Linked DNA regions of Homo sapiens. The protein of the gene in region 4 interacts with the protein of the main gene of each other region in a pairwise test. Each region holds a gene or a part of one and is shown on either strand. Other genes may lie near its edges.

Region 1 (4,196 bases), about 53 Mb from region 4:
CCAGCCTGGGCGACAGAGTAAGACCCTGCCTGAAAAAAAAAAAAAATTCAAAGGAGGCAAAATTAAAACTCTGTATGGTGATAAATAATAAATGGTAAAGGTAGAGAGAATGAAAAAAAAAATCAGGACAGTGGTTACCCTGGGGGCAGAACAGAGATGAGCGCTGGGAGCAGCACACAGGTGTTGAAGAGAGGCCGGAGGCCTATTTATGCGGGCAGTAAGGCCACTGGTGTTTATATTAAAACTTAATCCAGGCCGGGCGCGGTGGCTCACGCCTGAAATCCCAGCACTTTGGGAGGCGGAGGAGGGTGGATCACTTAAGGTCAGGAGTTTGAGACCAGCCTGGCCAACATGGCGAAACCCCGTCTCTACTAAAAATATAAAAATTAGCCGGTCGTGGTGGCAAGTGCCTGTAATCCCAGCTACTCGGGAGGCTGAGGCAGGAGAATTGCTTGAACCCGGGAGGCGGATGATACAATGTGTGGAGATCACGCCACTGTACTCCAGCCTGGGAGACACAGTGTCTCCAAAAAAGAAAAACAACACTTAAAGCATAAACTAAACCCACTGCTTAGAAACGGCTCCAAGACAGCACAGGTGCAACCTCAGAAAGGCTAAAACGCCCACAAGCACATCTCCAGGACAATCGTCTTTCCCATGCTCAGCAGCCTCAATCAGCATGAACAGTTCCCGCTGCGGCTGTTCTACGAGGCAGGAGGACTGAGCAAGTGGAGGCTGCCCAGCCAGACCCCGCTGCACCCTCAGCGGCCTCCAGTGCAGGCTCAACTGTGGGCTCAGCTGGAGTCACCGGTCTTGGGGCTCACCTCCCTGCTCCAGGTGCTACACTTTAAATGCCACAAAGACCCTCATCCCGTAGAGTGAGAATGCAGCAGAATCAGTGCTTTCCACCCCTTGTGTAAGTGGGGGAAGGGAGTTCCAAGGCAGTCTTTATGACTTTACATGGCCAGAAACTGCTTTTCCCAGTCAGCAAACAGATGATGGATCAGTGAAGCAATACTCCTGGTGACAAACTGGAAACTAACCAGAATGGAACACGCCTCAGTTTTACAGGTTTTTGCAGAATTTGCATTAATCTCATGTCTAGCTGAACTGAAATGGAACACGATCACACACTGTCGCAAACTCTGCACCTTGTATGGAAGAATAACTATTATTTTTTGTCTGATTGCTTTGGCATTTGAAAAACTACTATTTTTATGAACATTTTAATCCATCTCTAGCTGCTATAAGATGTGGAACTGCGCACACTTTCTCTACAATTCTGGTGGGAGACAGAATATTCCTGAGAGACTTCCTTAGGCCATGCTTAGCCTGTACCCCACGATAAACAGGTGTTATCCTGACGGACCAGAAGGCAGAAAACACACTTGAACATTTTCCTATTGTCACTAAGGAGAAGAAAAAAGCCAAACAGGAGAACAGTACAGTACATTTACTGACACCGGCTGCCCGAATAAAGCTTTCACAGCATTAGTGATACCCTGCAACAAAACCCCCAGGGCAGCTAACTCCCACCGCTGAGGTCGTCCCCCAAACTGCCTCTGACCCCCAGGCCGTCCCTTGCCATCCCCCCAAGCTGTCCCCTGTAAGGTTCTCTGAGCTGGCCGCACCATGGTCAAGCCCCCCGCCCTTGTGATAATGTACTTTGTGATATTCCCCCGCCCTTGTGAATGTACTTTGTACGATACGTCCTCCTCGCCCTTGTGAATGTACCCCGCCCTTGTGACAATACACGCTCGCGCCCTTGTGAAGGTACTTTGTAATATTCCTCCCAGCCCTTGTGACAATACATCCCCCAAGCCCTTGTGAATGTACTTTGAAACATCGTCGCCGCCCTTGAGAATGTACTTTGTAACACCCACCAACTGTCCTCAAAAAAACTGCTCCTAACTCCGATGCCTGTCCCAAACCTATAAGGACTAATGATTGCCGGGCGCGGTGGCTCACGCCTGTAATCCCAGCACTTTGGGAGGCCGAGGCGGGCGGATCACAAGGTCAAGAGATCGAGACCATTCTGGCCAACATGGTGAAACCCTGTCTCTACTAAAAACAAAAATTAGCCGGGCGTGAGGGCGGGCGCCTGTAATCTCAGCTACTCCGGAGGCTGAGGCAGGAGAATCGCTTGAACCCGGGAGGCGGAAGTTGCAGTGAGCCGAGATCACGCCACTGCACTCCAGCCTGGCGACAGAGCGGGACTCCGTCCCAAAAATAAAAAAAATAAAAAAATAAAACCAATAATAATCCCATCACCCTTTGCTGAGTCCTTTCTCAGACTCAGCCCACTTGCACCCAAGTGAGTAAACAGCCTTGTGGCTCACACTAAGCCTGCTCAGGTGACCTCTTATACGGACACGCGTAACATCCCCAACCTGCTGACCGTCCCTTGCCGTCCCCCCAAACTGGTCCCTGACCCCTGACCGCCCCTACCGTCCCCCCAAACTACCTCCAGCCCCCCTCCTGCCCAGGCCTCCCCCTAAGTTACCCCCAAGCTCCTTGCCGCCCCTTCCGTCCCCCCAAACTGCCCCCAGTCCTCCAGCCCGGCCGCTGTGATGGCGTCCCCGGGTCCCAGGTGCTAGTCCTGCGCCGCCCCGCGCGTCCCTCAGCCAATCCCGGCCGCAGACTTCGGCGGACTCTGGTTCCAGCCGGTTCCCGTCGCTCCGACCGTCCCCTGGCTCTGCTCCTGCCTCGCACTCACCATGTCTCCCCTGCTCCTGGGCTCTCCAAGGCGAGCTCTCCGTGGCCTCGCGGCCGGCGCAGCTGAAAGGTACAGGTACTCCCGGGCCGCTCGTGGTAGGCAGGGCACGCGCGGCAGGGAGGACGAAACGTCCCGCCCTCGGGGCCTCGGAGCTCAGGAAGCGGCGCCCTGATTGGACAATCTCTAAGCCCCCGCCCTTTCAACGCTCTGAGCGGACAGCGTTTTGGACACGCCCCCTTCACCCCTGGGGCCTTCGATTGGACACTACTGCAAACCTGCAATCCGCTTCCCGGTGTCCGCCCCGTGCCTTGATTGGACAGTTTTCCGGACCCGCCCCCGGAGCACCTGATTGGAAGATAACTTCCGCGCCGCCCCGCCTCCTGTCGCCCGAGTGACCGGCGCGTAGCCAACGCTAGTGGCTGACCCGCCAGCGGTGGACACTCCCGTTTGCGCGAACTCGCTCTGGCCCGGGGTGAGCCCAACCTCTCCCCGCAGCTCGGCCGCGCCTCCCGCGTCCTTCTCCCGAACGGGCACGAGAAGTCCAGACTCAGTTTCCCCACGGAGCAGCCGGAGTGCTGCGTGGAGGGGAGGGGCGAGCGAGCGGCGTGGGTCGCGTGGGGTGAGCCCTTCGTGGGGCGGGGTCCTCAGCCGTGACGTCACCGCGCTGCCCCGCGTGGGCGCGGACCCCATGGAGGCCCTGCCCCGTGCTGGAGCACGTGCTGTCAGTGTCCTGATTTTTTTTTTTTTTTTTTTTTTTTTTTTTGAGGTGGAGTCTCGCTCTGTCGCCCAGGCTGGAGTGCAGTGGCGCCATCTCGGCTCACTGCAAGCTCCGCCTCCCGGGTTCAGGCCATTCTCCTACCTCAGCCTCCCGAGTAGCTGGGACACAGGCACCCGCCACCACGCCGGCTAATTTTTTTGTATTTTTAGTAGAGACGAGGTTTCACCGTGTTAGCCAGGATGGTCTCGATCTCCTGACCTCGTGATCGGCCCGCCTCGGCCTCCCAAAGTGCTGGGATTACAGGCGTGAGCCACCGCGCACGGCCAGTGTCCTGATTTTTTTACCCAAACGTTTCCCAGCCTCCTGTCCTTCCCACAGGCCCCTGCACTTTGGCTCGCCCCCGACATCTGAGCCTGCACTAAAATAAGGACCAAACCTCGAGTCACCTGATCCCGAAAATGGGCGGACCCCAGGGAGCCCCTATCCTGTCTGGCCTCGCTGGATTTGTTTTTTTGTTGGACATTGTTTTTTGTTTTATTTATTTTTTTATTTTGAGACGGAGTCTCACACTGTCGCCCCGGCTGGAGTGCAGTGGCGTGATCTCGGCTCACTGCAACCTCCGCCTTCAGGGTTAAAGCGATTCTCCTGCCTCAGCCTCCCGAGTAGCTGAGATTACAGGCGCCTGCCACCACGTCCGGCTAATTTTTGTATTTTTAGTAGAGACGGGGGTTTCACTATGTTGGCCAAGCTGGTCTTGAACTC
Region 2 (3,578 bases), on a different chromosome or scaffold from region 4:
GGATGCAATTCTTGCCCTTGGCAAGGGGATAACCCGCACCCCCGCCCCTGCCCTGCTGACCTGCAGCTTGCGTCAAAAGAGATCCATGACATAAATGTCAAACTGGGGAGGACAGGAGTCTGAGCAAATCCCAGCCATGTGCCCTAGACCATGACTGTAGCAATAACTTAGGGTGGAGACAAAAAGCAAAAAGATGTAGTCCTGGGGATTGCTTCCCAGATGGAGTAGGCCAGAGGGAAACTGCAGAGGCAATTCAGGATTTGGCCCAGGTGAGGCAGGGTCTCTAGGCCAGTGAGGTCTCTCACTGAGGACCAGGAGCCTATGCCAGCCATTCTTGGGAAGGAGTCTTCATGTCTCTGGGCCTCAGTTTCCCCACCAGGTTAAACAACAGACAGGACATTAGCCTTACACACACCCATACACAGGGTGAAAAGGAAAAACACACAGAAGAGCTTATCAGGACTCCAAACTCAGGGAAGGCTGAGGAAGCAGCAAAAAGTGGGCTCTAGGGTCCAGCTGCCCGGGTTCAGACTCCAGCTCTGCTCTGCCACTCACTGGCTATGAGACCTGGGGCAAGTCACATTCCCACTCAGGGCTTGGTTTCCTCATCCGAAGGATGGAATACAAAGAGTACCTTCCCTGCTGGGCTGCCATGGGGACTGAATCATACCTAACACATGGCCCACCCTGAGATACATTCTCAACAAATGTCAGCAACCAGCTACTGTCTGACCCTGAACAGGGCAGGTGGGCCAGACCTTAGAAACCCTCAAATACACAAGTGGGATTTTCTCTGTTACAAAATGAGCAGCTAGCAGATTTCAGAGGAGGGCTGATCAGAGAATTCATGGGGGTAGGGGGTGAGGGGCGGCGGAGTAGACTAAGAAGGACCAAGATCAGGACACTATTCTTGGAGGTTATTCTGGTAGGCCTCGTGGGGCTTCAGTGTGGCTGTCATGAGAAGTATGTATGAAAAGGAAACAGGAGGAAAGGGAGGCAGGCGTGGAGGCTGTTAGCAGCCACCCAAGGCTCTGAGGCCAGGCCAGGCTGCTGACAAAAAAGGATGGGGGAAAAAGAGAAGGAAATTTCAGAAAATCCCATCCCTCCCCCAATGGTTACAGGGCCCCAGTGTCATCTCTGCTACCAGCAATAGCCAGCACTGGCCCGGTGAGCGTCTGGCCCATGATGCACACATGCAAAATGGCTGGATGACCAGTGGAATGTGCAGGACTGCTCTTCTCCCGCCCATACCCACCACTACCAGACACCCATGGCCAATGTCCCTTGGCCAAGCCGGCCTCTCTGACACTCCTCCCTCCAGACCGGGGGGCCGATGGGACCTGCCCACAGAGGACGGATCAGTGCTGGGGGATAGGAGCTGGAGGGGGAGAAGGGATGAAAGGCGCTGAGGTTGCAGGTGAGGGAGGGGTGGGGAGAAGTTGAGGGCCCTGGAGGAGACCCAGCCTGGCCTCCTGCCCGGGGCCATGGGGGGCACGTACGTCATCCTCAGTGGCTGCCTGTGGCAGCATCCTCAGCATGACGATGTTACTGGCCTTCTCCTCCTCCTCCTCATCCTCCTCCTCCTCCTCCTCCTCCCCTTGCTCGGTCCGATAGTCCTGGTCCCGATAGTCGCCGTCTCGGGGGAAGCCTGGCGGGCCGGTGGGGCTGTGCCTGTGCCGCCGCCGCCGCCTACGCTGAGTCTCGGAGCCCGGGGAGGCCTCGTAGGAATCCTGGCCGACAGAATGAGATGAGTGACACCAGACGGGCAGTCAGTCTGGGCAGGCCTAGGAGCTGGCCGCTGGCTCTGTGAGGCAGGCAGGCTCTGAAAGCCAGGGATGTGCGGGCTCCGGCTAAAGGCTCAGGCAGGCAGGGTGGGCAGGCCCCGGCCTGCAATCTTTCTGGGACTGTAAATTCTCCATGGGGTCCTTTTGGGGGCTGCCTTCAGTGGGTGGGGAGAGGTAGGTGACAGTATTGGTGTGGGGGGAACTCCCAAAGGTAGCTGACAAGACACAGCTTAAACCTCCTTGGGGCAAGATGGCCTGGGGTCAGCACACCAGACCCCACCCTTGATTTTCCTCTCCTCTCTGGCCAGCTCAGGGGGTGTGCTCAATTGCTTCACTGTACCACCGAAGGCTGCATGTCTCCTACGGTTCCACCCTGCAACCAAGCTGGGGGCATAAGAACAGCTTCAGATCTCAGCCAGAGCCAGGCAGCAGGAGCTGGTGGAGGTGGTGTGAGGGCTGCAGACACTCCCTCCTCAGTCCCTGATCCTCAGCCTTGGCCAGTCCTCCACCACACACCACGCTCAAAACGGTATGGCTGTTGGGCTCTGGGCTGTTGCCCAATCCATCCATTCCAGGACTAAGCAGAGCAGGCCTGGGGCCAAAGCCCTCCCGCCCACAGTGGGGAAGCACCAGATAACTTGGTGCTCCATTCCCACCCTGGCCAGGGCCCAGTGCTCCTGGAGACGTCTGGGCACAGCTTGACAGCTGCCACTGGAGAAGCCTGGCAGTCCACCAAAGGGGTTTTTGCCCTGGACCCTCCAGAGGGCAGTGGGCAGCTCACAGACTGCCCCCCAGGGCTGGGCTTGCAAGAACTCCCTTCCCAGCCTGCTGGACAGGAGAGCTGCCTGCTCGCATGGACCAGGTCCCTGACTGCCCCTCCAACTGGGATTCCCCTAAGGCAAGCCTGTTTCTTCCCCTCGGGTGGGGGCTCCCTGATGGTGTAAACATCGCGCCTCATCCCGCAGGCTAGGGTGAACTACCCAACATGGCACTGGCTTCTCCAGAAGGGTCCTTCCCTTCTGTCTAGGGGCTCTATCACCACTGGGAATGCCCATGGCTGGCCTCCCAGAGCTCCTCAGCTTGGTGGTCTGCAGTCCCCTTGTTGTCCTCCCAACCCCAGACGCCGGGTCCCATGGAAGAGGCTCTTCAAGTGCCCAAGTTGGCTGGGAGCGGGCAGTACAGGGTTCACAGTGAGCCATGGGCCCGAACTGAACAACAGGGAGAAAGGGAAAGAGTGGTGGCCAGGGGCCCTCAGAAGTACAGAGCCAAGCATGTGGAAGCCAGGGAGACCCAGGTTGGGAGAGGAGCCCTCAGAGAGGGGAGTGGGAACAGGCCCTCCAGGTGAGGCAAAGCCACCGAGCACAGTCTGAAGGCACGGGAGTGGAGAGCTGCCTGCACACGGTGCTGCAGCCAGACACAGAGGGCCCTTGGGAGCCCATCCCAGCCAGGCCTGGCGCAGCGCGCCCCCTCCTCACCTCCGCACTCTGCTCCTCAGATGAGTCGTCATAGTCATGCTTGCCCTCCTGGCTGCCATACTCGCGAGGATATGAACGGTAGTCCATGTCCCGGTAGTCGTGGTCTCGGCTGCGGTTCTCCCCACCATCATCCTGCGAGCGGTCAGTGGCTCCATAGCGGCCAGTCCTGTCACCACGACCACCACTAGTGGAGGAAGAAGGATGGGGAGGGATCAGAAGGTTGCCCTTTCTAAAAGGTGCAAGAGGCCCAGGTGATGTGTTCTCGTAGGGTTTTGGTTTTTTTGGAGGAGCATACAACAGAAGTGAGGTGCCCTTCTGA
Region 3 (3,578 bases), on a different chromosome or scaffold from region 4:
TGCCTTAGCCTGTGCACCCAACGTGGGCATCTGACTGCTGGCACACGGGTCTTTGAGCTTGCTCAAAACTCTTTTTATCTTTTTTTTTTTTTTTTTTTGAGACAGCGTCTCACTGTCTCCAGGCTGGAGTGCAATGGCGTGATCTTGGCTAATTTTTGTAGTTTTAGTAGAGACGGGGTTCCACCATGTTGGCCAGGATGGTCTCAATCTCTCGACCTCGTGATCCACTTGCCTCGGCTTTCCAAAGTGCTGGGATTACAGGTGTGAGCCACCGTGCCCGGCCCCCTTTTTATCTTTGAAGATAAAAAATAACTTCTTATTTTCTAATTCTGAGAATGATTTAAGTTCACTTTCTAACCTATCCGGGGCTGTTTTAATTATTTTTGAACTTCCAGGAATCTGCTTTCGAACCCAAATTTTATTAAGTGTAACTACTCGGACAGCCTGCCAATCATATCACAGGATATCCCAATTGGAAAGCTATTGGGAATGTACCTTCCTCCCCGAGTAGAAATCAAGTTATAAACGGCCAAAGTAGCCTATTCCAAAGGGCAGATTTTAATATTTCAAATTCACTTCCTTCCCACATAAGAAGAATGTGAAGAGGAGAAAATTATTCACATGCTCAAAGTTTTAGCAGGTTTGAGAAATGGTTTTGGGGTGATTATTTTAAATTATTGGCTATATTTGTTCTGCTTAAAATGTTTCAATCAAAGTGACTTGAAAGGCAGAGACAACTGCATTAAGATACAATTAAAAACTTATTTGTGACTCAGCCTATGTTAAATACTACAACTTGGAAAATAAAGCAGTTTTCTTACAGAAATATCATTCTTAAACTGGGATTGATAGTTAACTTTAACCCACGCATTTGAAGCTTATTTTTTTACATACTAAAGGGTATGTTGAAAAGAGCCAGTAATTTTAGGTAATTGATTTCTTCCTAAAATGACGAATTAGAATTTCATCTAATTTGTACAATCTGGACTCCAGAATTGGAATATAACGTAATTGCTAAACTTTTAGTTTGTAGCATATGGAAAACAAAAGTGCTGTGAACTGCAAATAAAGACACAATGAAAACTAATACAACATTCTATTGTCAGTCAAGAAAGCATATACAGTCCCCAAATAAACGATCAGGGCAAAGAATTAATTACTGTTACTCAGTCATGTACTTCCATTCACTTTTATCCCAGGGCAGGGTTGTTAACAAAAATTATTTAATAAGTGCATATAGAAACAATTTCCCTCCGCCTATTGATCTTATTTCCTTAAAAAACAAAAGAAAACAAACAAACAAAAAAACAGGTATTTTAAACCAAGGGTTACCAAGTAAATCCTGCTACCATCCGACTCAGGGAAAGAAATCTCTACTATCAGGTCAGTATTAGCACTGAAAAGCATTTAGTGTCTTGGCAGGAAAAGTTGACAAGAAAATCTCATCCACACATAGAAATGTGCACCACTGTGCAAGGAAGCACAATCCCCAGGCCACCCAGTGCAGGGCCAGCTCGAGAGGGGAATGCCCCCTGGGATCAGCTACCCCATGTCGGTCACCCCATTAACTGAGGGGCTCTGGTTCAAGGGTGTACTCAATTTAGGCTTGTGGATATCCAAGGGCACCTCAATTTTTACTGCTTTAAAACAGAATGGTGAATGGGAAGTGCCTATCTTTGGTTTGGACTTTCTGATTTTAACAAGAGTCCAGGTGTTCATTTTAATTTATCCATAAATGACTAAATTCTAATGATTCTATAGTTGGATGGCTGTAAAAATCAAATTTTAGTTTTCTGAACTTCCCAATCATACTCATCTATGATATCTCCTTCTCTAAAAATTATCATTAGGTAAATATTCACAATCTAAATTTAGTATTTCCCAGTACAGGAAGATATTGGTACCATCTACTGAATGCCCAGTTTTGATCTATTTCTAAATGGAGCAAACCAATTCCATCTCCTAGAGCTGGAGACTGTATCCAGGCAGTGTGTGGACAGAACGGACAATCTTTTCTGCCAAGGGCCTATTTGAGTGGAGCACCCCCACACGGGTTAGACGGGTCGGCACGGGGCTGGTGGGTGAGGAACTCAGGGGTCAGTGCAAGCTGCAGACCCTCATTTGGGGAACGCTCTCAGCACAATGCTCTTACAACTACAGGGTGCACTCCAAAATGGAGTTCAAGGAAAAAAGGCTAATGAGAAATAAAATCTGAAAAAATAACTTAAAAAGTTTGCTTTTTAAAAATTCCAGAAAGTGAGAGAAACATTCAAATTTTGTTGCTCTAAGAGGGAAGAATATGACTCGACGTTTAATTCCAGTACATTCCCTCTAGGATGACGGCCAAAGTAAAGGAAGAAGGGGCAGCAGCAGCTCCAGACTGGTTTTTTTTTTTTTTTTTTTTTTTTGGAGACGGAGTCTCACTCTGTCGCCCAGGCTGGAGTGCAGCGGCACGATCTCAGTTCACTGCAACCTCCGCCTCCCGGGTTCAAGCGATTCTCTGCCTCAGCCTCCCTAGAAGCTGGGATTGCAGGCATCTGCCACCACGCCCAGCTAATTTTTGTATCTTTAGTAGAGATGGGGTTTCACCATGTTGGCCAGATTGGTCTTGAACTCCTGACCTCATGATCCACCCGCCTCGGCCTCCCAAAGTGCTGGGATTACAGGCGTGAGCCACCGCGCCCGGCCCAGCTCTAGACTGTTTTAAAGGGCACCCTTTCCAGTTACTTTTTCCCTTTTAACACACGGTGGGAGTTCAAATCTCCAAAAGAGGTTTCCATGGGGTCAGTGGGACGAAAGCTCCTTGCCACCTCTAGTGAAACGCGGTCCTTGACACTAGCACGGCAGACCAGATGGAGTGGACACTGAGCTCTGACACGCAAGCCCAGGGAACCGGGGAAGGAACTTGTATGAACTTACAGCGCAAACCGTCAGCAGACTGGGAAGAGTTTTGAGGGTTACGGTAAATGTTCAAGAGGGCAATGGTCTGAAATACAAAACGCAACAACTTTATATTATGGAAAATTAAAGGTAAACACTTAACCGGCTGCCTCTGGCAAGTGCTTCAGTTGAGATTCAGTGCTGAAAAGAGAGCAAGTTATTTTCTGGAGAAGCAGAGGCGTTTTCTCAGTTGGCGGCTGCCTTGAATCCCTAACACTGCGGTGTAACGGAGGTCTCATGATATGCCCATCTTGTACTTCTGCTTACAGAACGTGAAAACTCTCCTTTTCAAAATTCCAATTCAGGTAAAAGCACAAATAGTTTGCCAGGCTAGCACCAAAATGTTCTTAGATGTGGCAGAAAATTTTTAATGAACTCGGAAAGAATAATGCTTACATAAACTGATGGAAAAAATTACTGTATTAGAGAAATACAATTGTTACATATCATGAAATCTCCACTTCCTGGAGGAAAAATTATAATGGTGAAATAAAACCCACACTTACTGGGCAACTTACCTTATTGATTCCTTAATATTCCTAAGAGTTTTAATTTTACACAAAGAACTTAATAAAGGCCAGGGGTTCAGTCACTGTAAAGACCAATGAATGGCTCAAAATGTTGAAATCCGTTTCACA
Region 4 (3,578 bases):
GTAAAAAGTCCATGTCGATTGGGAGCATGTCAACATATATTACAGGCTCCAAAAGGTTAGCTGAATTTACCAAAACCCATGATGGAAAAGCACTGGGCTGAGCGCAGTGGCTCATGCCTGTAATCCCAACACTCTGGGAGACTGAGGTGAGCGGATCACTTGAGGTCAGGCGTCGGAGACCAACCTGACCAACATGGTGAAACCCACCCTCTACTAAAAATACAAAAATTAGCCAGACATGGTGGCAGGTGCCTGTAATCCCAGCTGCTCGGGAGGCTGAAGCAGGAGAATTGCTTGAACCCTAGAGGCGGAGGATGCAGTAAGCCGAGATCGTGCCACTGCATTCCAGCCTGGGTGACAGAGCGAGACTGTCTCAAAACAACAACAACAACAAAAAGAAAAGCACTGGAGGCCAGTGAGGGACCTAGCCCAAGTCCTGCCTGACACAGATGTGCCTCCGTCTGGGGCTCCACATCGCCTGCCCTGAAGAGCTGACTCAGTTCCTAAAGGGCTCCTCGAACAGTGAGTACCCGCCAGCAGAACCCCACCTCCTCCATGTCCCAGGCCTGAGACACAGCCGCACCCTGACAGGGCATCAGACAAGCCCTCCCTCAAATCCCATTCATCAGCTACAAGGGTCAGCCAACTATAGCCTGTGGGCTGACAGGGCCCATCACCTGGTTTTGCACATCCTGCAAGCTTTCTAAAGGGAGACCATTCTGTGGCCTGTGAGAAGCACAGGAAAGCCCAACCTCAGCAGCCACGCGTGTCGAGGTGTGCCGGCACACAGCCAGGCCCACGCACGCAGACACCGTCCGGCTGCTTTCACACACAGTGACATGGTCGCCAACCCCTGGTCTGCTATGTTACCTACCAATTACAGATGATGTTCAACACAGCTATGGGGAATGGCCCAGAACACAAGATTCAAGGCAAACACTAGGAGACAAAAACAAGTGAATACCCAGGTGCCAGACCCCACAGCAGCAGCTTTGCTGCCAACCGTCGACACACAGCAGCCCCGACGGGCACAGACTGAGCCCTCCAAGGTCCCACAGCCGCAACGCAGGCACGAGGTCCAGGCCACAAGCCCCTCGCTTCCCCAGCACCTTTGGTCTGATCCTGGCTCTGCCACGTACAAGCTGTGTGTCCTCAGCAGGTGACAGCTCATTCTCCCGGCCCTAGGCACCTTCTCTACCAGCAGGAGAGCACCCCACTCACAGAGACTTAGGGGAAGCAGGGAAAAGGCACCTATCTTCCACAGTACTTACACAACTTCCTAAGCCACTCCAGCTGGGCTGAAGGGATGGACAGGCCATGGGAACAGGACTGGGGGAGAAAGGGGCCCTTAATGGATCCCCCACTCACCAGGCACATAGACGGAGGGGTTCTCTGACATGCCAGGAAGCGGCTGGTAGTCGTGAGGCCTGCGGATCTTTAGTGACTGGCCCTGGAAGATGATGCCATCAAAGGCCATAGCCTGGGTAGTCTCGTCCACTGAGCGGAACTGAATGAAAGAGAAAGGAGTGGTGAGGGATGGGGGTCAGGGACTAGTACAGCCCCTAGTGTTCCAGGATTGGGATTTCCTCTTTCCTTTCACTCATGTGAACAAATACAACATGCCAGGCCCCAGGCTGGGCACTGGGAGTACAACAGACACGCATGTCCCTGCTGCCAGGAGCTCACACTCGACCATTAAAAACACCAGGCACCCAACACAAACACAGAGGCAAACACACAATTGCAGGCTGTGATGACACGGAAGAGGGACAAAGTGCTGAAAAGGGATGTTACGGGAAAGGTTAGTTGAACGGGGAGATGACAGTACTGGAGTCTTTCTGGTGAGGGGGACATTTCAGCCCATCTCCGGAGCAATGCAACTGCAAGTGGACTGCAGTGAGGCAAAGACAGAGTGAGAGGGACAGAGTGAGAGGGAGTGCTCAGACAGTGAGAGGGAGTGCTCAGAAATCTCTGCAGTAAGCTAACACTGCCCACACCTTCACAATACTTCATGAGAGTTATCAGTCCACCAAGAGTCGAAAATCAAAAACCAAGGCCTTTTCCCGACAGTTGAGAAACACAGACACAGAAGACTAGTTAGGAACATCAGTTAGCTGGGGTAACAGAAGACTAGTTAGGAACATCAGTTAGCTGGTGTAAAGAACTCTAGCCAAGCAGGCAGGAGCATGGTAGGTTCTGGGAAGGTCAGTGTGGCCAGAGTGCAGAGAGGACTGGGCCGGAATGGTCTGGAAAAGGCCAAAGAGGTCTACAGAGGCCAAACAGGCCTCTCAGGTCACACAGAAAGCAAATGGAAGGCAGAAAGTAGGATCAGATCTGTAATGCTATAACAGGGCTCACTTCAGCGACCGGGTGGAGAAGAGGCTGCAGAGGGCCTGGTGGAAACAGCACAAGGCAGCTCCACACAACATCAGCCTAAGGGCTGGGCCCTCACATCACACACGTTTCCTGGACCTCACTCACTCCCCCAGCTCACCTCCAAAAAGGCAAAATTCTTGTCCTGGTTAATCTGCACAGCCAACACTGGGTTGCCAGGGGCCTGGGTCAGCCCCCCCAGGCGCATCTGGGCGTTGAAGAAATCCATCATGGCCTCCTGCAGAGGGAATAGGAGACAAGGGGGGGGGCGGGGGAAGGGAGGTGGAGAGAGGAGGGGAAGGGTGAGAGAGGGAGACACAGAGGGGTTTGGGGGTAAGGGGAGAGGGATGAGGGGAGGGAGGAGGGGGGGAAGGAACAGTGGAATATGGGTGGGGGTGTAGAAGTCAATAGTAAGAACAGAAGCAAGAGAGAAAATGGGGAGGAAGCAGTAGCAAGAGACGGCCAAGGGCAGGCGATGGACAGGCGTTGGGGGACAGCCACAGGGGCCCCAAAAAATCAGGGGAAAGGAGAAGATTGTTCAAGAAAAGGCAGAGGGCATGATGACAACACAAAATGAAGAAAAACACGAAACACAAGAGATGAAGAGACAGAGCACACAGGAAGGGCCACCCAGTGGAGACAGACAGAAAAGTGGCAGGAAAGTAGAAAGGAAGTGGCAGGCAGGGGCAGAGACGAGCAAAGGACAGAAAGGGAGAGCAGGACAGAGACGAGCGAGGAGGAGGAAGTCAAGAGTGCAGGGGCAGGAGAGGAGGAGTGTAGGGAGGAGGGGCAGGGACGGGAGGGGAGGAGAAAAGAGTGATGTGGAGGAATCTGGCCCTGGAGTCCGGGGGCTGGTTTATCAAATGTAGCAAAGTGCAGGTTGAGAAAGTCAGAATGGACCTTACTTGCCTTCGACGATGGTAGCAAACTTTTTGTTGCTACGAGGGATCTCAGCCCCACAATATTTCACTTTAAAGAGAAATGGAAACAACTCTTTGATCTCGGGATTCTCAGGGGGTGCCACAGGAAGGGGTTGGGGAGAGGGGAGAGGGAAAAGGAGTGGTGGGGAAGGGGGAGGTCAGGGGCGATCAAAAATAAAAGAACAGCGACCATGGGAGGGACGTGGGGGAGAGGATAGGGGACAGGCGGCAGAGAACGAGAGGCGTGTCAGAAAAAAACTGAGGGGCAGCGTGCGTCTGTGTGTG

Evidence for each region.
Region 1: the proteins of U2AF2 (region 4) and ZNF57 interact in binary tests that used the Homo sapiens proteins (3 or more experiments, as listed by UniProt).
Region 2: the proteins of U2AF2 (region 4) and RBM10 interact in binary tests that used the Homo sapiens proteins (3 or more experiments, as listed by UniProt).
Region 3: the proteins of U2AF2 (region 4) and splicing factor U2AF 35 kDa subunit-like protein interact in binary tests that used the Homo sapiens proteins (3 or more experiments, as listed by UniProt).

The regions. Positions count from the first base shown.
Region 1 is NC_000019.10:2,899,569-2,903,764, reverse strand, and holds the start of ZNF57 (zinc finger protein 57), read right to left. Parts: upstream 2,838-4,196; 5' UTR 2,720-2,837; coding exon 2,717-2,719; intron 1-2,716. UniProt on the Homo sapiens protein: May be involved in transcriptional regulation.
Region 2 is NC_000023.11:47,169,180-47,172,757, reverse strand, and holds part of RBM10 (RNA-binding protein 10), read right to left. Parts: intron 3,444-3,578; coding exon 3,260-3,443; intron 1,731-3,259; coding exon 1,500-1,730; intron 1-1,499. UniProt on the Homo sapiens protein: Binds to ssRNA containing the consensus sequence 5'-AGGUAA-3'. May be involved in post-transcriptional processing, most probably in mRNA splicing. Binds to RNA homopolymers, with a preference for poly(G) and poly(U) and little for poly(A).
Region 3 is NC_000021.9:6,489,212-6,492,789, forward strand, and holds part of splicing factor U2AF 35 kDa subunit-like protein, read right to left. Parts: intron 3,082-3,578; coding exon of another isoform or gene 3,044-3,081; intron 2,987-3,043; coding exon 2,920-2,986; intron 1-2,919. UniProt on the Homo sapiens protein: Plays a critical role in both constitutive and enhancer-dependent splicing by mediating protein-protein interactions and protein-RNA interactions required for accurate 3'-splice site selection. Recruits U2 snRNP to the branch point.
Region 4 is NC_000019.10:55,661,535-55,665,112, reverse strand, and holds part of U2AF2 (splicing factor U2AF 65 kDa subunit), read right to left. Parts: intron 3,343-3,578; exon of another isoform or gene 3,283-3,342; intron 2,612-3,282; coding exon 2,495-2,611; intron 1,508-2,494; coding exon 1,369-1,507; intron 1-1,368. UniProt on the Homo sapiens protein: Plays a role in pre-mRNA splicing and 3'-end processing. By recruiting PRPF19 and the PRP19C/Prp19 complex/NTC/Nineteen complex to the RNA polymerase II C-terminal domain (CTD), and thereby pre-mRNA, may couple transcription to splicing.